2 separate regions of the Homo sapiens genome follow, and region 2 is linked to region 1. The links come from fine-mapping of genetic effects on gene expression. A gene starts in region 1. The other region holds a variant in brackets. All regions are shown on one strand. Distances are from middle to middle. Region 1 holds the start of SH3BP2 (SH3 domain binding protein 2). Region 2 overlaps SH3BP2 (SH3 domain binding protein 2).

Evidence for each region.
Region 2: its variant is fine-mapped to the expression of SH3BP2 in whole blood (TOPMed, PIP above 0.99).

Annotation. Positions count from the first base shown.
Region 1 is chr4:2,787,736-2,800,087 of GRCh38, reverse strand. It overlaps SH3BP2 (SH3 domain binding protein 2), which reads right to left and starts at 7,003. Exons shown (of 13, transcript NM_001122681.2): 1 at 6,950-7,003. RefSeq lists enhancers at 1,243-1,582, 11,930-11,989, 11,572-12,206, 12,330-12,352 and a silencer at 6,936-7,285.
Region 2 is chr4:2,819,022-2,831,373 of GRCh38, reverse strand. It overlaps SH3BP2 (SH3 domain binding protein 2), which reads right to left. Exons shown (of 13, transcript NM_001122681.2): 2 at 10,621-10,760; 3 at 8,337-8,439; 4 at 6,644-6,761; 5 at 6,178-6,248; 6 at 4,056-4,144; 7 at 3,700-3,768; 8 at 1,227-1,881. The coding sequence starts at 10,756. Among named protein-coding and RNA genes, the nearest start is that of ADD1, 19 kb to the left of the region's middle. RefSeq lists enhancers at 3,653-4,538, 4,539-5,425, 10,785-11,286. The variant A/C (reference allele first, on the strand shown) is at 4,330.

The DNA of each region.
Region 1 (12,352 bases):
CCTCGACGAACCCACTTCTGTCTGTGGCAGCCCCCACCCTTTCCCCAGACCCCGCCCGAGCTCCTCATGGTCTTCTTGTGGCCACTGCTTGGAGGGCGTATGTTCGGCAGTGGTCTCCAGACCCCAGAGTAAGCTTGAAAACATAAGCCAGCCCCTGCTGGAAGCCCCACCAGGCCCTCGGGCCCCACCTCTCTAGCCCCTCTCCCTTTTCAAAACCAGGGTGTCTTTCACACAGCCTGAGCCCTCAGCCTGGCCCCTCCTCCTGCTCCCCCTCAAGGAGGCCCCCCCGGGGGGATCCGTGAGGCGCCCCTGGCATCTTTGGTGCTGCCTTTTCCCAGCTTCGTACTGGAAGGGCCAGGACCCTGCCTGCCGCAAGGGTGGCTCTGGGTAGGTCTTCGAGGGGGCCTGGGTCCCAAGTGGGTCCCCCCTGCTTCTCAGGACACCAGCCCTGGAATAGCTGTCCCCTTGATGCCAGCCGGCAGGAACCCTGGCATGGGGCAAGGCCCGCTAGATCCTCTGCAGAGGTGGGGGTTGGGGGTCCTTTCTCAATCTTCTTCCTTCCCCAGCAACTTCCTGCCCCAGAGGCAGGCACAGCCACCCCGACCACAAAACATCACCCTCCTGGTCACATCCTCAAGAAAATGGGAAGGTTGATCTCAGAGAGCCCCTGCCCCAAGTAGCAAACCTTCCTGAAGCCAGCACCCAGGACCCCAGGATGGCTCAGGGCTCAGAGGTGGCCACTGCCCCTCCCTCCACTTTACACACCCAGGGCCCCATCCCACCTCATTAGGCAGCTGCAGCCCAGGGTCTGAAGCTGAGCGAAGTCCAGTCGCGGTGAGGGTCCCGAGGGGAAGGCATTTCAGAGATTCCACCCCCAGGGTCCCGCCTGGGAGCAGCTCCTCCGGTGGGGAGGAAGGAGCCACCTGTGGGGACAGGCAGCCAGCAGGGGTACAGCAGGAACGAAGTCCTGAGGCAGGGCGGGTACGGGTGGCGGGTGGAGGCTGAGGCTGCACCCCTGAGCGCCATTAGTCCTAATCAGCCCGGAGGCCTCGATGACCTGACGCCGGCTTTGGAGTTTCCCAGGCCCCGTGCTGCGTGCAGCTCCTGGGGGGCCACTCCCACACACCCCGCCCCAGCAGCTGGATGGGCACACCCTCACCCTCACGCATCCCATGAGGCTGCACTTCCTGTCCCTGCCCTGCCCAGAGAAGGCGGAGGATGCCCAGGTCACACGGCCTGGCCTGGTGGAGCCACCTGAGCCACCCAGCACCTGTGTTCCTAGAGGTCTCAGCCTGGGAACGCCTGAGGCCACAAGAGGTGATGGCAACGGGAAGTCACTTCCCCCAGCTCGGGGGATGCACCCCCGTCATCTTCCCCTCTGCCCTGGTCAAACTCACTCTGCTGACCACTGATCTGCCTGCCAGGCCAGGCCCCAGCACTATCTGCCCAGCCATCAGCGGACCGCCTCGGGCAGCGCCAGCCACTCACCCCACTGGAAAGGGGCTTCCCTTTCTGGCCTCGAGTAGGAGGAGAGGAAGCAGCTGGGGTCAGGGAGGGGCGTTTCCGAGAGAGGAGATGAGTGCCGAGTTTCCTGGCCTGCCTCCTCTGGCTCTGAGCCTGGTCTCCATGCAGGGCTGTGTACCCCCACCTGCCACTCAGGGCTCCCAGGCCAGCTTTTCTGGATCTTTCCCCATTGCCCTCCTAATGGTGAGAAATCCGGCCTTTTGCTTGGACTTGCCTCAGGTGCCAGCTCTTTGGGACCCAAAGCCCTGGTGGCACAGGTAGGCCAGGCTAACTCCAATCTCAAGCCAACACACGTTTAGGAAGAGCAGCTACAGAGAAAGAAAGCACTTTCGTTCAGGGAGAGGACAGGGGACACCGACTCCGCTCGGCGGCTCTTCCTCACCAGGCTTTGGTCCTCCCTATCTACCGCTGCCAGGGCCACCGAGACCAGGCCCAGAAGCAGCTGGGTCCCTGCTGCCGGGTGGCAGGCAGCGGTGGCTGTCACAGCGCAGCCCGCAGGGGGAAGGGAGGAGGCTGTGATGGAAACCTGAAGAGTTTCGTGGGAGACCAAAGCACAACAGTCTGATATTATCTGATTGGAAACTCCACCAACTGGGCGGCAGCTGCCAGGCTGACTGGCACATTAGGCTCTGATGCTCAGTAGAGTTAAACACAGGTGGGGGGAGTGACAAGCCACCTTCAAAGAGCTTGGCACAGCCCGCCCGTTGCCCGCGCCACTTCCCTGCCCAGGAGTGGGAGGCTGGGAGAGCCGGCACTCCCCTCACCCTTCCTCTGGGACAGGCCCACGTGGGCACCACCAGGGCATGGGCTCTCAGACGCGACCCTGACCTTCCTGAGTTCCCAAGCAGGAGGGGCAGGCGGACAGGTCACCATGGATGGGTCAACATGCATGGTGGCCATAGACCAGGCTGGGGGCTCAGGAAGGCACCCAGCTCAGGGTGGAGTTGGGGGTGGCCAGGGAGGGTACCCTGAGCACCAAGCAGGACAGACACTTATGTCTTCAGCTGAAATTGCTTCTAAGGGAGAGAGTGGCAAGGTGGGCCAGGCAGGTGAGCTGCTACCCATGGGCACCTGCCAGCGGTCCTGCCCTCTGACCTGTGGCCTGTCTGCTCTTGCAGTGCATGCCTAGCCCAGGGCCCAGTACACAGGCACCCAGTGTTGCATGAGTGGGGCCCGGGGCTGGGCAGCAGCCTTCTGAAGGAGGTCCACCACTGCCCCAGAGGCAGAAACCAGGGTGGGTGGTAAAGGCGCACCACTGCCCCAGACTCCCAAGGCTGAGAAAAAGCCAAGGACCGCCCAGCATTCCAGGCTCCCAGAATGACCCCTGATCCCTTCCCACCTTGTCCAGGGGCAGCCAGCAGCAAGGGCCCACCCCTATGCCTAGCTCAGGACAGTGGACAGGGCTGCAGGGCATGGGGACCCAGGACCCTCAAATGCCACAGAAGAGCATCACTAGATTACAACACCCCTGGATCGAGGCTGAAGGAACTCCCCCAAACGGAGCTGCCCATTCACACAGTGTCAAGGGCAGGGAGGCCCTAGCTCGGGCCTGGGGATCTGGCCTCCCATGAGTTAGACCTACTTTCACCCCATTTCACAAGGAGGACGCTGAAGCCCTCAGACGAAGCCTGCTCTGAGCCCAGAACTCAGCTCCCCTCTGGTGCCTGAGAGAAGCTCTGTGCCGCTTCCCTCGGCCCCTGCCTCGCGGCCTCAGCCCCGTGTGCCATGGCACGCACACTGCCTTCTTGAGGCTGTTGCCTGCCAGCCTGGCTGACCCTGGGGTGGGGAGCTGGCCTCCCTCTGCAGGCTTGAGCAGACAGGCACCCTACGCCCCACCCAGCTGCCTGGAGCAGGCTCAGCAGGAGCGCAGTAAACATCTGATTCACAAGGAAGCAGAGGGCACTTCTTGGAATCAGCTCAGCTACAGGGATGGGGGTATGGATACCACGAGGGCGCTCTGCCAACCCCTCAGGGCTCCTCTGATCTCCCCAGGCAACTGCTCCAGGTGGCCGAGCCCACATTCTTCCCAGAGGCCAGCTGACAAAGATGGACCAGATGTGACCGGAATCCATGAAGAAAGGGCCAGTCACCTCAGGGCGTTGGGGCCAGCAGTTCCAGCACGATCTGTGATCGGGGGCCGGGAAACCAAGCAGGGCCTGACCACTCTCATGGCCTTGGAAGTTACAGAGCCTGGGGAGAAGAGAGAAGGTTGGGGGAGGGCACCTTTCTCCCCTCCTGGGAGCCTGCACCACCTCGAACTCCTGTCTGACCCAGGTCTCCACCCGCCCCGAACCTGGGCACGTGCTTCTCTCGCGTCACCCTTGAAGGATGAGTGTAGTCAGGGGCCCGGCACGGAACCCAAATCCAGCAGCGTGGTCCAGAGCCAGGGACTTCTGTCATCCCGTTTTGCAGATCAGGAAACTGAGGGTCAGGAAGTGCAATTCGCCTACAAGGCTCAGGTCTCCTGGCCCGTGGCTGAGGGCCAGTCCCTTGCTCTTGGCACCATCCTGTCTACCCTCCCGTGCACAGGCCAAGGGGTGGTGAGGAGGGTCCAGTGCCCCAGGGAAGGGGGCCAGCCAGTGAGCCTGAAATGCTCCCTACCACCCCCTCTGGGACTTAGGCAGCCCACACGTGGGACTGTCTCCAGCCCCTCGGTGTCCAGACAGGGCCACCAGAAGAATGCAGAGGCCTTCTGGGGAGGAGCCGCCTATCCTGGAGGAAGGATTCCAGGGTCTGCACGGCCCCTTCTCCTTGCCTCCCAGGCCCCTCCATACCCTCACCACACCTGGCATGCAAAGGCCACTCCCGTCAAACTGGTCTCCCACCCTCCCTACCGCCCGCCTTTGGCTTAGTCTGTCTGTACCTGCATGGCTGCCCGCCCGGCTCAGATCCCTCCTCCTGACGGCCCACCCTGTATTCATTGGCCCGAGGGGTGGGAGCCGCTCCACTGCGTCTGGGGTAGGACAGCTCTCACCTTGTGGCAAATTCCCCGTCTTTTCCCCGCCAGCCTGCCCTTCTCCTCACCCACCCAGGCTGCACAGTGATGGCCAAGCCACCCGGTTATTAAAGAACTATATACTCTGCCAGGCGTGGGGGCTCACGCCTGTAATCCCAGCACTTTGGGAGGTGGGCAGATCATGAGGTCAAGAGAGGACAGAGAGTGAGGAGGGCAGAGCCTGCCACACATAGTCACTGACCTGGGGTGTCCCCACAAGGGAGCTTTTGAGGACAGAACGCAGGAAGACCCAGGGGCTGCCCAACACTGGCCACTCCTGATGGACTCAGGCCTTAGTCCAATGTGGGCAGGAACCTGGGAGCCTTGGCCTTTACCCAGGCCTCTCCAGGCCAGTCCCTGCCCCCACCCAAAACAGGACATACAGCGGCCCTGAGGACCAGGGAGAGCACCCTCAGCGACCCACTGTCACTGAATACCAAGCACATGTCACCACCACCACCATCCCCCCTACGGACACTCATAGCCACCCACCAGGTACAAAGTGCTTCACAGCCCTCAGGTCATGGATGAGAAAACGGAGGGGTGGCAGGGGGAAGCCTCCTGGCCATGATCACACAGCTGGAAACTGGTGGCATCTGAGTTCACACCCAAGATCCTGGCTGAGTTTGCGCCCTTCCTCCCTGCCCCTCAGGAACCAAGGCTGGCCATCTCGTCTCTCTGGGCCCCTGGACTTCCCGTCTGTGGGCCTGCTTGTGTGCGTGCATCCCTGGGGGGTGGGGAGCTCCAGCTGACTCAGCACCCTGCTTCCTCTGTCCATGTGGGCAGAAAGGGCCAAGGCAGGCCCAGAGCCTGTCCTCCCTCTGTCTGCCTCTTCAGGCCAGCCTCCTTGGTGGGCTCCCCCATGATCCTGGAGGCCTGGGGACTCCCTGAAAGGCCAGGTCCCCTGTCAGCACCCCTCTCACCAGATGGCCCTGGCTGGCAGTTCCTAGACACGGCTGCCTATCTGTCTTCCTTCTGCCTGCCCCCTCCAGGGTGTGCCTAACGCAGGGCACAGAGCCAGGCAAAGGGAGCCTGGCGGGTGGCAGGGAGAGGGGATAGACAGAATCCTCACTCCCTTGCAGCCCTCGTCCCAGGCCTCCTGTCCTGCCAGGAGTGGAGTGCCTGGAGTGGGGCCCTGAGGTTGGGCTCCAAGAGGGCCCTTCGACGGTGTCTACGTAGAGGAGACAGTGGACAGAGTGGGAAGAACCAGGAGGGGGTGGAGCCCAGCCCCTCCTCTGGTCCCACAGGGCCTGAGCCAGTGAGGGCAGGAGCTTGTCCAGGCTCATGGAGTTGGTGCAGGGCTGACCTGAACCCAGAGGCTTGCTTCGGCAAGGAGGAGGCTGTGGGCCCTGCCTTCAGGCGGTTGTGGAAACAATTCTACACATTGCATCACCGGCCCATGTCACCTGCAAGGCCACACACATGTCATCCAGGCAGGCTGTCCACCCCAGCAGCCCACACGGAGTACCCGCCCCTGGCCACAGCCAATTCGAAGGACTTAAGTGTGGCCACTAGACCAGGAGGCACAGCTGTCCCCAGTGTCAACAGATGAGCAAACTGAGGCACAGAGAGGGGATAGGAGGTGCTCACGGAAAGGAGCACCAGCAGAAGGCTCCCCACAGCAGGGCTCAGGCCCTCAATACCCCCAGGGAGCCGAGGCCCAGAGCAGCGGGAAAGTGCTGGGCTGCAGGGAGGCCAGCGTACAGGTGGAAGGGGCTGTCCCCGCCCCCTAACTCCTCCAGTCCCTCTGCCACCCCTGAGATTCCCTGTTGCCCATGAGAGTCTCAGACGCCCGGCTATCAGTCACTCACACTTCAGTGTGAATCAGCGCCAGTGGGCGGCTTTTCTTGCCCTCCGTGAAGCGCGGCCGCTGCAGAGGGAAGTTTGGATTCCGGGAAGGGCGGAGAGCGAGTGCCCGCCGCAGCCTTTGAGTCTTGTGGGGAGGGTCGCGTAAAGGGGCCCCGCCGCGGGGCCAGAGGGGCGCGAGGGGTGCGAAACAGACGCGTCGCACCGCCTCCCACCCCTGAGCCCCCGGCAAGGGACACCCGGCCCCCGCCCCGAAGCCGCGCTCCCTCGGGCACTGCCCGCCGTGCCCAGGCCCCGTGCGTCCTTTGGCAAGGACACGGAGGCCCCGGGGCCCGGGGGAGGCTGCTGCGCACCCGAGACCCCCGACACCCGCCCATACCTGCCGGGACCCTGAGACTCCCCCGAGACCTGCCAAGACCTGCCGGGACCCCTGAGACTCCCCGGAGACTCCCCCGAGACCCCCGAGACCCGCCGAGACCTGTCGGGACCCCGAGACTCCCCCGAGACCCCCGAGACCCGCCGAGAGCCCCCAGACCGCCAAGGCCCGCCGAGCCCCTTCCAGACGCGGAGACCGCCCCCCCGCGAGACCCCCGAGACCCGCCGAGACCCGCCGCCGAGGCTTACCCGCCGAGCGCTCTCCTGGCCCGCGGGCCCTGGGTCGAGGCGGCGGCTTGACTCGGCCGCCAGGCGCTCCCGCCCGCGGGACCCGCCGCCGCCGCAGCTCCGTCCCGCCCGCGCCCGCCCAGTCCGCCCTCCTCCTGGCCCCGCCCCGGCCCCGCCCCTCCCCGGCGGGTCCCGCAATCCTGGAGGTCCGAGCTGGGCGTGGGGCGGGGCCGGTACCTCAGGGTGGGCGGGGAACTGCACGTGGCCTCCGCGGCCCCGGGACGAGGCCCCTGGGGGGCGAAGACTGGCGTTGTCGCGGGCCTAGACGCCGGGTCCACAGTAGGTGCTTAGTTCTCGCCCGTGAGTGAGGTAGCGTGTCTGTCCCTCCTGCGTGTCCCTCCCAGTGACACCCCAGTGCCCAGCGACCCAGGTGGAAAGGGCGCTGTCCACCCCCCCAGCCCCGTGGTCCTGATCCTGGGCGGCCCCACCCCTGCCCCGTGAGTGCGACTTAGGCCCTGGCCAAGACAGGAGCAGGGGAGGTGGGGGAGGGCTTGCTGGGCACCAGGAAACCTTGTCTTTGTTTCCAAATGTCCTCCAGGGTACTTTTCAGGCACTTCCCAGGGGGACCTCGCCTCTTGGACCAGGTCTGGACTCCGGTGGCCCAGAGGTCGTCTTGGGGCTGGGAGGCACAGGAGACCGGGTGCTTTACACTTGGCCTCCTCTGAGGCTCCCTTTCCTCCACCATCACCCTCTCCCTAAGAGTAGGCCCAGATGCCTTGGTGTAAGGGCAGGGGCGAGAAGAGGAGGGGCTTCCTGGGAGGAAATGGCTTCCCTGGGGAGCTCTCAGGGCCAGGTAGGTGGAGGGAGCCGTGGAGAAAGTGAAGAGGCTGGGGAGACCAAGCTGGGCCTGCAGAGCTTGAGGGCGAGCGGACCCCCCACCAGTGCGGGAGTCAACTGCTTGGGGCGTGGGGGGACTCCTCCCCATGAGGAGTGGGGACTGGACCCCAGGTCCCAGAGCCCAGGAAGCTGTGAGTAGAGGAAGGACAGGATCTTGCTGGGAACCCAAGGGAGCTGGGGGTGGGTGGTGGTGACCTGGCCCTGTCCAGGCAGGCGGCCAAGGTCTGACCCTCTGTACTGAGCACAAGAGGCCAGAGTCCAATGACAGGGGCTGAATTGGCTGCTCCAAATCAGGCAGGGGCAGGGGTGTCCAGGGCTGGCCCTGCAGCAGGTGAAGGACTGGGTTTGGGTCCTACAGGTTGAAATACCTGAGGGCCTCCAGGAGACACAGCCAAACCAAGCGGGTTCTCAGGGTTGCAGCTGGACCGAGTGTGGGCCAAGTCACCGTCCACCTGTCCCAGAGCTGCCCAATAATGGGTCCCAAGCCTCAGAAAGGGGATCCCTGGCTGCAATAGCCCTCCTCCCTGCTGGAGAGACACACTTGGGATCAGAGAGGTTAACTGGGGAGGGGAGTAAGTGGGAGGAGTCAGAAAACTAGGTGGCCAGGCCCTGAGCCCAGGCATAGAGGAAGAGCCAGTGCCTACCAGGAAGTGACCAGGACCAAGGCAGGGCCTCTGGAAGGGAAGGGACAAAGCAGGGGATGGCAGAGGCAGGGGAGGATATGGGAGAGTCTTCAGACAACAGGGCCCCTTTTCCCCATCTGTGAAATGGAGGGGGTCCTCTACTGGGGAGGCGGCAGAAGTGGATGGGGCATGACAGCAGGCAGATACTCACTCTACCTGGCCCAGGGCCACCCCTCACACCGGCGCTGGGGCTGTGACTCTACCCACCTACAGCCTAGCTCTCGGGGCTGAACTTAGACCCCAGTGAGGGAGTAGATGGGTGCTGGCTGGCTGGGGTGCTCACTCTCTGGGGTGCCTGCTCACATCCCCACCTGTAAGTGTCCTGGGCCTGGCTCCCCAGGTCTCAACTCTGCTCATCCCAGCATTGGGTAGCCTGCAACTCTTCTGCCCACCCCCCACTCTGGGCTATTTCACATTTTCCTAGCAGGGAGGAAGAGATAGGAACTACAGCCATTGTGGAAGTGGCTGGGCTCAGCCCCATCCGACGTTCAGTGCTGCCACTGTTAGCACCGCATGGGGCTGCGTCACTCCTGTAAGAGGCCACATGCGGAGGGAGCTCCAGGCTGGGCCAGACTGGTCTAAGGCTCCTGACAAAACACTCATGACCTTGGGGCTGTACATCTTGATGTCCCTGATGTCCAGTTCAGCTAAATAAATGCCTGGCCCCACACCAGACCCCGGGGACCCAAGATGATACAAGGAAGTCCCTACCCTTGTGGCTCACGAGAGGAGCAAATGGACAAATGAGCAGATGCCATTGGGTCACAGCAAGTGTCCTGTTCCCAGGGGACCAGCTGGGGAAAGGGGCAGAGACCGGGAGGGGAGTGGAGCAAAGCCAAACGTCGGTGCGGCCCCGCCAGGGCCTGACTACAGGGCAGGGTGTACAGGGCTGGCCTCAGATGCCAAGCTCAGAGTTGACGGAGCAGGGTCACTGCAGACAGTGTGGACGGACCAGGCGCCTAGAGAATGATCACCCAGAAATGCAAAGCACCTCTGTGCAGGGCACCTCAGCCAAACAGGGGGAACAGGGTGCAGCCTCCACCGTGGGGAGAATCCCACACCTCATATTCCTCCCCTTCTCCCCCCTTACCAGTCCAACCCCAGGGCGTGGGAGGAAGGAACTCCTAGTTGGGGCCTCAGGGCAGCTCCCAGCAGCCCCTCCGAGCAAGAAGCTGCTGGAGGCTGTGGCCAGAGCCTCTGGGCACCCAGGGGTTCCGCTGAGGCTGACAGAGCAGGGATGGGTGAGGAGGATGACCTCGCCTGCTGGGAGGGTATGCAGGGCAGGTGAGCAGAGGTAAGGCGAGGACCCCTGGCCGGCAGGGAGCTGGGGAGCAGACCTCCACAGGGCACATCCGGGGTAGAAGCCCATGGTGATGCCCCAATCACACCCACAGAATAAGGCCAAAGAGAAGGGGGCCGGTCCCCCGCCACACCCATCCCCCGTGTGCCATCGGCCATGCCACTGATTTGGCAGGACCCAGAACAGGCAGAGGCAGCTGCTGTCTGGGGGGTAGGGCAGGACCTGCTGAGGGTGAGGCTGACGGTTAGGATGGCGAGGGCAAGATCTGCCGCTGGTCTACGTGTCACAGGCGTCCCAGCAGGGGGCTTCATGCGCCTGCCAAGTCTCTTTTTCCTTCCCTGGGCCAGCAACCCTGGAGTCGTCCGCACTGATGCCTCTCTGCTCGCCCCACATCCCGTCCGCCCTGAAGGTTCTGTTGGCAAAGCACACCTGGAATCCTGCCTTTCTCAGCCCCTGCCTGCCTCATCCTCCCTCTCCTGCGCTTGCCTGGCAGTGTCCATCATCACACCAGAGGGGTGCAGTCACAGTGTGAGTCAGGTCATGTCACTTCTTCACTCAGAACTTTCTGTAGATCCCACCTCCCCCAAGGCAAATGCCTTCTATCCTTGCATGGGCAGGGCCCAGACCGAGCCTGTGCCACCTGCCTGCTCCCTGAGTTCTCTCTCCATAGCCCCGCTTAGCATTGGCCACACTGGCCTCCTGTCTCCTCCAGCACCGCAGACACATTCCCACCTCAGGGCCTTTGCACTTGCCATTCCTGCCCCTAGATCACCCTTGGCGGGTGTGCCTGGACCCCTCGCTTCCCTTGGTCTGGGCTCTGCTTCCAGGGCACCTGAGTTACAAAATAGACTCCCAGTGCATGATTGGTGAATGAACAGACAAAGGCCTCAAGGGGCAGCCCCAAGGAAGGGGCTAGGTAGGTTTTGTTTTTGTTCTTTTGTTTTGAGATAGGGTCTCACTCTGTTGCCCAGGCTGGAGTGCAGTGGCACTGCAGCCTCAACCTCCTGGGCTCAGGTGAGCCTCCCACCTCAGCTGGGACTATAGGCATGTGCCACCACACCCAACTAATTTTTATTTATTTATATTTTTTATTTTTTTGTAGAAATAGCGTCTCACCATGTTGCCCAGACTGGTCTCGAACTACTGGGCTCAAACGATCCACCCACCTCAGCTCCCAAAGTGCTGGGATTACTGGCATGAGCCACTGTGCCCATCCTAGCCAGGTTTTGGAGCTGCCACCTGGGTCCCGTGTCCAGAGGACCTTGGAAGCATGGACCCTGCCCTCCCACCTGTCCCTGTCCCCAGGAGTGGCCCCACAGTGATACAGTGTACCACCTCACCAGGCCGCCTCGCTAGGAGAGGCAATTCCTGAGTAGGGCCAAGGCCACAGGCTTCCCACCTGCTTCCCTGGGGATAGGAGGGGACAGGTTCCCACCCTACCTCCCCCAATCCCCACTCCCTGGGGGAGGCTGTGTGGAGTCATCCTGCCACACAGTCCAGTCCCCTGGCCACACAGCCCAGCACTGGAGGGAGGGGCAGAGGGGGTGTGGGGGAGGATTGTGGCTCATGGGAAGAGGAGTTTGAGGAGGCAGGCTGGGCCTCACACGCAGGCATCAGTCTGGCTCTGAGGACAGGGCTGGGGGCTGGCATCTCTCCCAGGAGGCTGGGCTGGTGGCAGGCACTCTGGCAGGGAGGGCAGGCTGGACAGGAGTGGCCCCTCCCAGGCTCTGGGCCATCTCTGCATCCCAGGCCAGGCCTGGCTGCCTCACGCCTTGCCCTGGGTGGGATGGGGAATATTTTCTCCTTTACCGAATGAAGGGGAAAGGAGCAGCCTGGGGCTGGAGGGGGAGCAGTGGAGGTTGGGTGGGATGGTAGGACGTGTGTGCTGGTTGAGGGGTGGAAGCATGGAGGCCCGCTCAGGTCTCAGCCAGACCCCACGCCAGAGTGCCCTGCACACTGGCCTCCCCTCTGCCTCCACTGCCCTCCAGCGTCATCCCGGGAAAGCCAGCTCAGTAGCATTACCCCAGGGGACCTCCCCAGACCCCCACAGTCATGCCCAGATGTGCACCTACATCCCACCACACTGCCCAGAACTAGCCTTCCTCACCACCCCATCCCACCCCCTAGGCTGGGGCGCCTTGAGGTCAGGGCTCTTCCAGTGGCTCTGGTCCCCAGGATGGTCCAACACGGGGCCCTGCTCAGAAAACATCCTCAGTGGGTGGCCCCAGCCTGTGGGCTTCTGGCCAGCTGCCCTCAGTGAGCCTGTGGAGGGTGGGGCCCACAGCCAGCTTGCCCACTGCCCCTCGTGCCTGGGACAGGCCTGGCTTCCTGGCCAGCCTGAGAGCTGGTAAAGGCTGACGAAGTCGGCGAAGGCTCTTTGGGGACAGTAGGACTGAGCTGGGCTCCCACAACCTGGGAGGACTCTCCTGGCAGGGGCACAGCGCTAGAGGGCAGAGTGAGGGAAATAGAGCCAGAGTTCACGCCAGGTCAAGGGCCAGCCAGCGCCCCCAGGCCACCAGCACTCCCCAGGAGGGCCTGCCCTGC
Region 2 (12,352 bases), 31 kb before region 1:
CGACACCGGAGTCAGGGGTCAGGGCTGCCATGGATGCTGGCAAGGGAGTCCAGGGTTCCCAAGCTCAGTGTCATCACACCGTCAACAAGTGCTCTGGATGCTCGTGGGGAGGGGAGGTCCGGTCATGGCCAAATCACAGCCCACTCAGAGCCACAGGGGAGTGGACGTGAACTGGATGAACAATGCAGTGTGACCCCAAAGGACGCCCATGGCGTCCCTGCACGCCTCCCTGTGTGGCTAGCCGGTCCTGCTCAGCAAAGCCTCAAAGGCTCTAGGGAGGATTAACGGGCCACGCCAGCATGGGAGGCCAGCCTGTGGGTGAGGCTGAGCCCTGGAACCGCTATCCCCACAGTCATGGAAAAACGTGACTTCCGAACATCTGCATCTCTGCAGCCCTTGGTGAACTAGAACCACGAGTGTGACAAGGGCTGCTCAGAGGCACTTCCACACAGGCAGCAGGCATCTCAGAGGTGTTCGCAGAGCCCTGGGAGAAGGGCACCGTGGGCAAGGGCATTCGGGGGTGCGCGTGCCGGCCAGCACACCCATGCGAAACCTGCCCCTCCAGTTCCTGGACCCTTTGCCTGCCAGGCAAGGCAGGAAGCCCACCTGGGGTCCCAGATGCCTTTGACCACAGCCATTGGCGTAACTCTGTGGGAGTGGGGGACAAACTGGTCTCCTGGCACTTCCCAGAAATAAAGCAGAAAGCATTTCAGCAGGACGCGGTGGCTCACGCCCGTAATCTCTACACTTTGAGAGGCCGAGGCAGGCGGATCACTTGAGACCAGGAGTTCAAGACCAACCTGGCCAACATAGTGAAACCCCTGTCTCTACTAAAAATACAAAAATTAGCCGGGCGTGTTGGCAGGTGCCTGTAGTCCCAGCTACTTGGGAGGCTGAGGCAGGAGAATCACCTGAACCCCGGAGGTGGAGGTTGCAGTGAGCTGAGATCGCACCACTGCACTCCAGCTTGGTTGCCAGCGTGAGACCCTGTCTCAAAAAGAAAAAAAAACAAAGCATTTCCAGCAAGCTTCAGGGCTGAGTCATGGACATGCTCCACGTTCCACCAAGGCGGACTGGAGGCAACCGGGAACCTTCCTACCCTTGCACCTGGTACCCCGTCGTGGGCTAAGAGTGCCAGGGGAGCGAGGTGGGCAGAGTGCCCGTCAGAGGCCAGGCCAGGGTCCCTGTAGCTGGAGGCAGGGCTTGCAGCCGCCACACAAACTCACTGGAGGTGCGGGAGCTGCGGCTTCTCTGGCCTGGGCAGGACTGCGGGCCGCGCCATGGCCTCAGGCACTGGCAGCTTCAGCGCAGGAGGCCGGGGAGCCACGGGGGGCACAAAGAGTCCGGGCATGGCTGCCTCCCTTGGGGGGTCCTCTTCAGCTATCTTCAGGAACTTGGGCTTGTTGGCTGGCACAGGTGGGGGCTCAGATGTGGGTGGTCCTCGGGGGGACAGGTGGAAGGACTTGAGTTTGTCACAGTTTCTGGAGGTGGCAGTGGCCATGATGGCAGCACTGGAAGTGGAGCAGGCCCCGTGGCCAGGGGTCCAGGGCTCCGGGCTGGGGCTGGCACTCTCCCGGAAGCAAGGGGGTTTCCGGAGGCCGGGTGCGGTGGGCATGGTGCTCAGAGGGGGATCGCTCATCCTTCGGGGGGTAGCAGGTACCCTGGGGCAAGGCTCAGCCCGCCTCGGGCACAGTGGGTCCCTCTTGGAGTCCTCAGCAGCCAGGCCAACATCTGGGAGGCCGTGCTTAGGGGGCGGGGGTGGCAGTAGGGGACCGGGGCCCTTGGAGGTAAAGGAGTGGGCCCGGGGCATGTCAGAGAAGGCTGGCTTCCTGGGCGTGGGCACTGGGGGTGGTGGGTAAGCCGGTGGGTGCATCAGGGCATCTGCAGAGCAAAGAGACCCGGGTTGGACCCTGACAGAGACTGGGCCAACACTATCCTCTGCTGGCAGTGGTCAGCCAGGCCAACCAGGAGTGCAACCCATGGTAGGCCCACCCCACAGCCTGCCCACCCAGCAGCCCAGCACCCAGCACTCCCATCCTGCCTTCCCCAGGGTCCCAGACCACCCACCACCCCCAGCCTTCCCCATTCATCCTCCCTATGGCAGCCTGTGGACGCTTCCTGAAGCCTAGAGGACACCTGAGGAGCCCATCAGGTTCCCAGAGGTGGAAGGAAGAGAAAGGAAGAGAAGTCAAGAAGGATCTCAGGGCTCGGCTGGAGCGAGAGGGAGGACGGAATTCCCAAGGACAGGGGAGGGGAGCAGCTGGGAGGAAGGTGAAGGCCCGTGTTTGCTCAGAACATATCCAGAAAGCTGGGAGATGCCAGGGGATGCGGGGTCAGGGAATGTGTGCAGAGTTCAAAAATCCAGGCTGGACATGACTCGGAGCGGGCAGCCTGCAGATGACCCAGGCTGTCACCCAGGGAATTCGGGAGAGGAGTGAGGTCTGAGTCCCGGGTATCCCTCATGGGGCCAGCACAGGAGCTGAGGAGAAAGAGGACCCCGGGAGCACGGGGCGCCTGGAGGACGGGCTGGCAAGGAACAGGGCAGGCGCCAGGCTGGTGTGGCTCAGGACTGAGCGCTGGAACTGGGAATGGGGAGGCCACAGGCGTCCTGGACGAGAAATGTCTCGGGGAGAGGATGAAGGGGGTACAGAGGGAGGGTGAGTGGAGCAGTAGCATGCAGGAGCACTGGTGGCTCCCCAGGCCCATCTCTAGCCTCACTGGGCTGCAGCTCAGGGCTGGGCAGACGGAGTCTGAGTTCACCAAGGCTTGGCCAGCCAGGCTAAGACGGAAGGCAGTAGTGTGTGGGCGAAGGGACAGGCATGGTGAACACTGTGAGACAAGAGCTCTGCATGGAAGGAAACTGAGGCAAGCGGCCCGCAGACCCTCGTGGGCTGAAGGACTGTTGGCACTGGGACCCCAGAGGGAAGGAGGGAGGGAGCGGCAGGAGAAGAGGGGCTGGACCCGGGAGCCTGAAGGTGGGAGTGGATGGGAGGCAGAGAGGATACGGGGTCAGGGGCTGGGGTCGGCAGAGGCCAAGTCAGTGAGAACAGGAGGCTGGAAAACAAGGAGGCAGGGCGGACGCAGGGAAAATGGAAGGATCAAGGATCAGCCCCAGACATGAGGAAATTGACAAGATGAGGGGGCTGGAGAGACAATAGGGAGGGAGGAAGGGAGGGAGGCGACAGAGGAGGACAGAGACACGTCCTCCCCACCCAGCTCGTGCTTCCGTCATCCACGTGTGACCACCTGTATCAGCCTGTCTCTTTGACTAGGCCATGTGCTGCAGGAGGTAGGTGGACACTGGGATGGGATGGGGTGGGGTGGGACAACGACCTGGCCTGCAGCAGTGTCCACACAAGCTGGCAGCCATGGGGACATGGACCTGCCCTGAGCCTGCGCGCTCCTCAGCGTCCTTCCTTCCCCATGCTTAACCCCCAGGGCCACCCCGGCTCCACCTGCCACTTATCGCCATGTGCCTGTCCCTCCTCCTGGGAGGTGGGAGGAGGAAATGAGCAGAGGTGGCAGCAGCTACACCTCTTCTGCTCCAATCCTCATAATACTTGGGACACAGCAGGGAAGCGGAAGCCACCCAGAGCGGTACCTGGGCCAGCATCCCCAGCCTCGGAGGGGCTCTGCTCCCGGTCCCAGCCCCTGCTTCCTACACACCCAGAGCTCCCCGGGCCCACCCGCCCCACCTACCCTCAAGCCTTCCGGGCTCCGGGGAGTCAGGCTCCAGGTAGGAGTCATCCTCATCGTCGTGCTCATAGTCTGCATGGGGAGAGGGGGGTGGTGAGAGCCAAACCGGCCCAGGCCCAGTCTCCGAGCAATGCTCCATGCATGGGGCTGAGTCCAGGAGGCAAGGGGCAAGCACCTGCTGGGAGGACTGTGAGTCCAGACCCTGCCGCTGAAGGCCAGAGCCCAGGGATGCTACTGCGCACTGCCAAAGGGCCAGAGCAAGGAGCACAGCCGAACACACCTCCCTCTCCTCCACAGCGGCCAAGAGGAGGCCAGGTGGGGAGAGGCAAACGGGCAGTGGATGCGGAGAAAGACCTCACCTTCATTGTCCGTGGGGTACGGGGAAAGGCTGATATCCACAGGCCGCTCAACTGCGCCGTAGAAGCTGTCTGTGTCCGAGCTGGAGTCGCTGCAATGCAGGGTGCGTTGGGGCGGACGGTGAGCACCAGGCCTGGGAGGTCCCTTGATGCTCACACAAAGGTACACACAGGCACACGCGGATACATGGACAGATACACAGATGCACACACGGATACACTGACAAACACATGCACACATGGTTAAGCTGACAGACACACACATGCACACACGGAT[A/C]CGCTGACAGACACACACATGCACACATGGATACGCTGACAGACACACACATGCACACATACTCTGACAAACACACAAATGCACACGTGCACACACAAGCACACGCAGGAACACAGGCACACAGGCATGGATATATATACACAAAGACACAGGGACACGCGCAGACATGTAGACACACAGACACAAGGACTCTGTCACACAGACATGGAAGTATACAGATAAACACAGATACAGGACAAGCACACATGTTCACACACAGACGAGCGACACACGGACACGCACACACAAACACAAGCAACACGCGGACATGCACACACACAGAGCAACATGCGGACATGCACACACACACAGAGCAACATGAGGACATGCACACACACAGAGCAACACGTGGACATGCACACACACACAGAGCAACACGCAGACATGCACACACAAACACAGAGCAACACACAGACATGCACACACACACAGAGCAACATGCAGACATGCACACACACACACACAGAGCAACACGCGGACATGCACACACACACAGAGCAACACGCAGACATGCACACACAAACAGCAACACGCGGACATGCACACACACAGAGCAACACGCGGACATGCACACACAAACACAGAGCAACACGTGGACATGCACACACACAGAGCAACACGCGGACATGCACACACAAACACAGAGCAACACGCAGACATGCACACACAAACACAGAGCAACACGTGGACATTGCACACACACACACAGAGCAACACGCGGACATGCACACACACAGAGCAACACGCGGACATGCACACACACGGAGCAACACGCGGACATGCACACACAGTTACAAGGACAGACAGAAGAACTGGAGGCTGTGGTGCCTCCACTAGGTGCCCCTTCTGGCCCACAAGGATGGCCGCCCTGACTGTGCCCACGTCTCCACCTGCTCCTGCCTCAAGAGGGCTTGGGCGACTCTGGGCTGGGCCCGAGGCTGAACAGCTTGGACCAGGGGACGGGAGCCCGGAGTCAGGCAGGGACCTGCAGGGCAGCCTTGGCTGTGCCCAGCCCTCCCTGGGCCTCCTGTCCCCACCTGTGAAAGGACAGGAAGGTTTGTTCCCTCCACATCGTCTCGGGCCAGGAAGTCCCAATCCAGAGAGTATCTGCTGCACGTCGGGCCAGCTCACGGGGGAGGCTGCCAAGGCTCAGACTGCCCAGTGGCGCCCCGCCAGGAGAATCATTCTGGTCTCACTCTGAGTGAGCCAGGGTGGGCGTAGGGGGCTGGGAACCCAAAGTGCCCAGCTGCTGCCATGCCAGGCCTCCCTGGTGGCAGGCGTATAAACACACATGATCCCCTAACAGGAACTACCCATGGCGGCAACACAGAAACAGATGTGACAGATGGGGCTGGAGGTAGACAGGAGCAGAGAGATGCATGCACACCTGTGCATGCTCTGTGTGTGTGTGCATGTCTGTGTGTTGCTCTGTGTTTGTGTGTGCATGTCTGCGTGTTGCTGTGTGTGTGTGCATGTCCACGTGTTGCTGTGTGTGTGTGCATGTCCACGTGTTGCTCTGTGTGTGTGCGCATGTCCACGTGTTGCTCTGTGTGTGTGCATGTCCGCGTGTTGCTTGTGTTTGTGTGTGCGTGTCCGCGTGTCGCTCGTCTGTGTGTGAACATCTGTGCTTGTCCTGTATCTGTGTTTATCTGTAGACAGGAGCAGAGAGACGCAGCCCAGCTGGCACCTCCAGGAAACCTTTAAGGACGGAATTCTATGCCAAGCCCGGGGCTGGGAGGCGGACACCCGGGTCAGGCCCAGGCGCCCCAGGGACCCTCACTGCCCGGTATGCCCTGGGCCCGGGCTCACCTGGTGTCCAAGGGCAGGTCTTTCTTTTCGTGGAAGTGGCCAATCTCCCTGCGCAGCAAGGCCATCCAGCTCTGCAGGTCAGCGGGGCTGTGGTGGGCACGGTGCCACCAGGGTGGGCCCCACCGCACCCCTCCACCTTCACTGCCCTGCCTGCTCTGCTGTGACTCCCAAGGTCAGAGGAGGCGACCCGGCTGGATACAACATGGCTGTGTGGCTCCCCTCAGCCCACAGGGGCACCTCCCAGGACAGCATGTTCCTTGTGTGGGCGCTGGCACCAGGCTCTGGGCATGGGGATGGAGCTGGGGCAGCACCCACCCAGCTGCCTGTGTCCCAGCCACACCTTCTCTTTGCCCGGGGCTGAGAGGCCAGCGCCCCAGGACCAGCGAGCCCCCAAGGCAGGTCCAGCCTGGTGCCTGCAGGCCCACACCCCCAGTCACCTTGCACTCGTCCTCGGACCCCCAGTCACCTTGCGCTCCTCCTCGGAGGAGGCCGAGAAGAACCACGTGCGGTGCTTCTTGCTGATATGGATGATCTTGAAGGGGAAAACGTTGTTGGACGTGGTCTCCTCAGCCGCCCGCATCACCCTGGGGGCACAGCGCCAGGGGTCACGGCCTGGTTCACAGCTATAGGGATGGCCTTCCCACAGCACCCCCCTGTGAACACGTCTCGGCACCAGCACCACGCCCCAACGGAAGAGGGCAGATCGGGTGGGCCCTGGCTGCTGATGCTCCCAGTAGTGAGCTTCATGCCCAGGCAGGCGTAAGGGGGCATGGAGGGGCATGGAAGAGGGGTGCTGGGTGGGCTTCGTGGGAGCAGCAGTGCACAGGAGACAAGGACAAACCTGCCTCGATGCCCGCCAATGCCACTTTACATGGACGCCACCCTCCCACCTCTGGCCCCATTTGCCCAGGCCTGCTTGGCCTCCCTGGGGTACCCCACAGGGCTCCGTGCCCCTGAGGCCCAGCAGCAGCCCTGAGTGCATTTCAGGGAATGACTCGTGCCTGCTCTGCGGCCCACTCACACAGCCAGGATGTGGGGTTTGCGCTGAGTTTATCACGTGGGGAGCCCTGCCAGCCAGGCACCGGGGCAGGTGCACTTATACGGCCCATAAGAGCCTGGCCAAAACTCCTCAGGCCCAGCATTCCCTGATGGGCTAGACAATTCCCTGGGGCATGATTGCATCTGCCACTGGGCCCAGGGTTCATGGCATGGCTGGCACATGCTGGAGGCCGGAAGGCGCTGTGTCTGTCTGCAGAAAGGGAACGACCTTCCCCAGGGGACCCCGGAGCTCTGTGCCAGCATGGGGGCCTGGCACCAGGCTGGGTGCTCTGGCAAGGCTGCCCTACCAGGCCTGTGGCCAGGGTGCAGGCCGGGGCCTAGAGTCACTCCAAAGGTCCCAGTTCCACTACTGATACCATGTGACCCTTGGTTCCTCATAGGCAGGAGGGGCTGGGCCCTTAAGGGGTGGTAAGAGGCATAGATAAATGCTGTGGGGTGCAGGGCTCCGATGGGATAGCAACCAGAACCAGAGCTGGGTGCCAGCATTAACCCTTTGTGTGGGCCCCAGGCCATGGGCTGTGCCAGTGCACTCCCCCACCCACATGCCACCTGGCCACCGCCCACCTGCCTGTTAGTGCAGAAGGCCCTCCAGGGCAGCTCATGGCCCATCACTGGATAGAGCCCAGCCCAGGACATGCGTGAAGCTGGAAACTGATCCCGGCCTGGGAGGACCCTGGAGCAGGGAATCCTAGGGCCCAGCCTCTGTTTGGGACAGGGCCTGGGCTGGCTGGGGTCTGGGCTGCCTGGAAAGAGGTCATGGTGGGTGAAGGGGCAAGGTGGGGAGGGAGGAGAGATGCAGAAGTCACTGGGTGGTGGCCGAGTGGAGACTCTGGAGAGCAGGCTGTCCAGGCCTCTGGGACTTGTGCACAAAGCCACAGGAAGACCCTGGCACCCCCAAGGTCCTGCGCCTGAGGGCAGGACACGCGGAGAGGGCGAGGCACTGTGGAGGCTGGGCGGGGAGGACAGGGGATGGGCACGAAGGCTGCTTCGGGAAAGCACTTTCCTTGGGCGGGAATAAGGGGCAGGCCCAGCTGGGGCTCTGCTGGGAGGGACCCGCTGGCTGTGGGGGCCCGAGGTCAGCAGGCAGGTCGGGCACTTACCGGTTATAGCCACTCAGGGAGAAGGCGCCCTGCGGGGAGGCAGAGGTGCTACTCTTGAAGTAGTAGACGCAGCGTTTGTGGATGATGACAAAGCGCAGGGGCCCTGTGGGAGGTGGCAAGGGCAGGAAGGTGAGCCTGGAGGGGCAGCTGCCAAGACCCACTGTGAGGACCCTCCACAGGACAACTTGGGGCCAGGCCTCCTGCCTCTAAGCCTTACCAAATGGAAGAGCAGGGAGCAAGGCTGGCATGCTGCCCCCTCCCCAGGAGCCCACTCTGGGGCCAAATACGGAAAAAATTGTAGGCACACTGGCTAGCCCCAGAGTGCCACCCGAGGGCAGGCCTGGCTGCCCACAAAGAAGAGGTAGATTTGGGGGGCTGTGTGGAGCCAGCATGAGGCAAGGCAGAGCCAGGACCAGAGGCCCAGGGAGGCCACAGCTGACTTGCTGGGTGCTGCAGGGCTGTTGGAGGCTCCCACTACCCCAGAGCTAAAAGAGGGGGACTAAGGCCGGGTGCAGTGGCTCACGCCTGCGATCCCAGCTACTCAGGAGGCTGAAGCAGGAGAATTGCTTGAACCCGGGAGTCAGAGGTTGCAGTGAGCCAAGATCGTGCTACTGCACTCCAGCCTGGGTGACAAGAGTGAGACTGTCTCTAAAAATAAAAGATGGGGTGAGCCTGAGCAACATGTGAAACCCCATCTCTACAAAAAATACAAAACTTAGCCGGACACGGTGGCATACATCTGTAGTTCCAGCTACTTGGGAGGCTGAGGTGGGAGGATCATTTGAGCCCAGGAGGTCGAGGCTGCAGTGAGCTGTGTTCGCACCCACTGCACTGCAGTCTGGGTGACAGAGTGAGACATAAAAATAATAAATAGGCCAGGCGCGGTGGCTCATGCCTGTAATCCCAGAACTTTAGGAGGCCAAGACAGGATCACTTGAAGTCAGGAGTTCGAGACCAGGCTGACCAACATGGTGAAACGCTGTCTCTACTAAAAATACAAAAATTAGCTGGGCGTGGTGGCACACTCCTGTAATCCCAGCTACTCAGGAGGCTGAGGCAGGAGAATTGCTGGAACCCAGGAGGTGGACGTTACAGTGAGCTGAGATCAAGTCACTGCACTCCAGCCTGGGCAACAGAGCAAGACTCCATCTCAAAAAAATAAATAAATAAAAAACAAAAATAAATAAAAAATAGGCTGGATGCGGTGGCTCACACCTGTAATCCCAGCACTTTGGGAGACCAAGGCGGATGGATCGCTTGAGCTCAGGAGCTCCAGGCCAGCCTGGGCAACATAATGAAATTCCATCTCTACAAGAAATTTAAAAAAAAATTAACAGGGCATAGTGGCATGCCTGTAGTCCCAGCTGAGGGGATCACCTGAGCCTGGGAGGTTGAGGCTGCAGTGAGCCATGATCACGCCACTACACTCCAGCTTGGGCAACAGAGCAAGACCCTGTCTCGAAAAAATAAAATAAAAGAGGGAGACTCAGGAGCCCGGAGAGTTTGCCAGTGAGAGCCACTGGTGTGGGGCCACCCCTAGGTGGAAAGTTACACTGAAACCACCCTAGCTCCACTGCCCCAGCCCTGTCCCAGGCTGGGGGACAAGCCAGTTACAGCTCCTCCAAGGAGGCTGTCTGTGCAAAGAGGAGAACAGCTCAACCAGTGCCCGTACAGGAACCAATCAGTCCAGCCTGGACATCTCAACCAGGCGGCCCAGGACCAGGGAGTCCCTGGCAGAGGGCACTGCTACTGCAAAGGCATGGAGCACCTGCTGCTCAGGCCCTGATGCTCTTGGCCTTCAGTATCTCAGCATTTGGGTATCTCTCAAGCCTGAGGGCTGCTTCTTCCTCCCAGCCAGCTGTCCTGGGGGCCAGAGCCTGGGTCTTGTGCAGCTCCAGAGGTCCAGCACCCAGCCAGGACTTGACACATAGGTTCACTGTGGGCGAAGTGACCAACTAACTCACTGAACATTCACGGATTCAGTGAGGGCAGCACCAGAGGCCAGACCTACCTGGCCACCTGTGGTCCCCAGGTCCTGGCTGCAGGCTGCAGCTCCCCTTGCCAGCTGGCCAGCACTGTGCACCACCCCGGACCCTGCTACAGTCCTGGGGGCTAGGGAAGTCAACCTCTGCTTCTCCAGGGGTGCCAGCCACCAGAGAGGGAATGGGAAAATCCAGAGGGCACACCATGTGAGGAAGCAGAGGCTTGGAGAGGATGCTTACTTACATGGCTAGCCCTGCCCCCATGCCCTCCTACTGTGCACCCTACCACCCCAGGGACTCACATTTCAGCAGCTGCAGCTGGGTACCGCCCTTCTTGTGCAGGTAGCCAGCCTTGGCCACGCCCCCAGGCATGGTTAGCAGGTTCTGGGCACCAATGGCCTTCATAGGGACAGGCCAATGCATCTCTTCAGCCGCCATGAAGCTGCAATAAAGGACAAAGGCACGTGGCTCAGCTACGGTCAGGCAGGAGATGGCTGAGCCAGGGCGCTCAGGGGGACACTGCCAAGATCCAGGACACAGCTTGGAGGGTAGGGCCATGACAGGCAAGGAAACCCCTTTTCTGAGGGCCTTGGGCTTCCAGGTGGGACCCCAGGGAGAGACAGAGCCACGGGCTCCACTCAGTCAGCCCCTGGTCCACTCAGCCACAAACCCAACCCCAGGATCCTGAGCGCTACGTGCAGCCCTTTCTCTCCACTGGTTCATTCTGCACACAGCCACTGAGCGCAAGGCCCCACGGGGGCTGGGTAGAGATGAACGAACTCAGAAAACTGCCAGCCCAGGTAAGTGAGACCTCAGGCCATAACTACTTCAAGTCCCAGTGCCAGGTGAACCTATAAGGGGCCTAGACAGGAAGAAGGCAAGTGAGCAGCCAAGAGCACCCAGCTCAAACGACCTGGGCTCCCATCCTGGTGTGACTTTCTGGGAGATCCCAAGCCTCAGATGCTGGAGGACAGAGTGGACACCCAGCCCAGCACACAGCACACTGTTGTCAGCAGTGGTCGTGACCACCATTTGGTGGGTTGGCTGCTATCCACCCCACCAGCCCAGGATATCACTCCCCTTCCCTCTGAGCCCAAGCGAGGACCACACAGTCAGTGGAGGACCAGTGACTGCCTTGGGGCTAACCCAGGCCCACAGGACCCAACATCATGCCCTGCCCCCTACTCCAGCCCCCCTTACTCATGCTCCAGCTGCTCTCCTTGAGATACACCATGCTGTTTAATGCTTCCTCCTCTGCCTGAAATGACCTCCACCCCTTCCCATGCAGAGAACTTCTACTCATCCATCAAGACCCAGGTTAAGAGTCCCCTCTTCTGCTAGGCACCCTCATTGCCCACTTAAATCCAGCATCTTCCTCATCTCTTGTCCCAGTGAACAGTACCCCCCGACCCTGCACTGTTTGGTCTGTGCCTGCCCTCACTCCATCCTGGGTAGGGTCACTCCTGTGGCCCCAGTGGAGTTGGATGGGAGCAGGCCTGTGGCCAGTGTCCTGTTAAGCCCTTAGTGGAGCAGCTAAGGTCAGACCCAGATGCCCAGTGGGGCTGGGACTGGTTCCACTACAGCTCCAACCCCAAAAAACATACATAAAGAAAACTAAGCCAGGGCAACATAGCAAGACCCTATCTCTAAAAAAAAATTTTTTTTTAATTAGTCAGGCATGGTGGGGTGCATCTGTAGTCCCAGCTGCTCTAGGAGGCTGAGGCAGGAGGATCACTTGAGCCCAGGAGTTTGAGGCTGCAGTGGTCTATGATCGTACCACTGCACTCCAGCCTGGGCAACAAAGTGAGACACTGTCTCTATAAATAAATAAAATAGCCGGACGCAGTGGCTCACGCCTGTAATCCCAGCACTTTGGGAGGCCAAGGCAGGCGGATCACTTGAGCTCAGGCGTTCAAGGCCTGCCTGGGCAACATATAGAGACAACCATCTCTAAAAAATAATTAGCTGAGCTTGGTGGTGCACACCTATAGTACCCGGAGGAGGCTTATCCAGGAGGATCGATTGAGCCAGGAG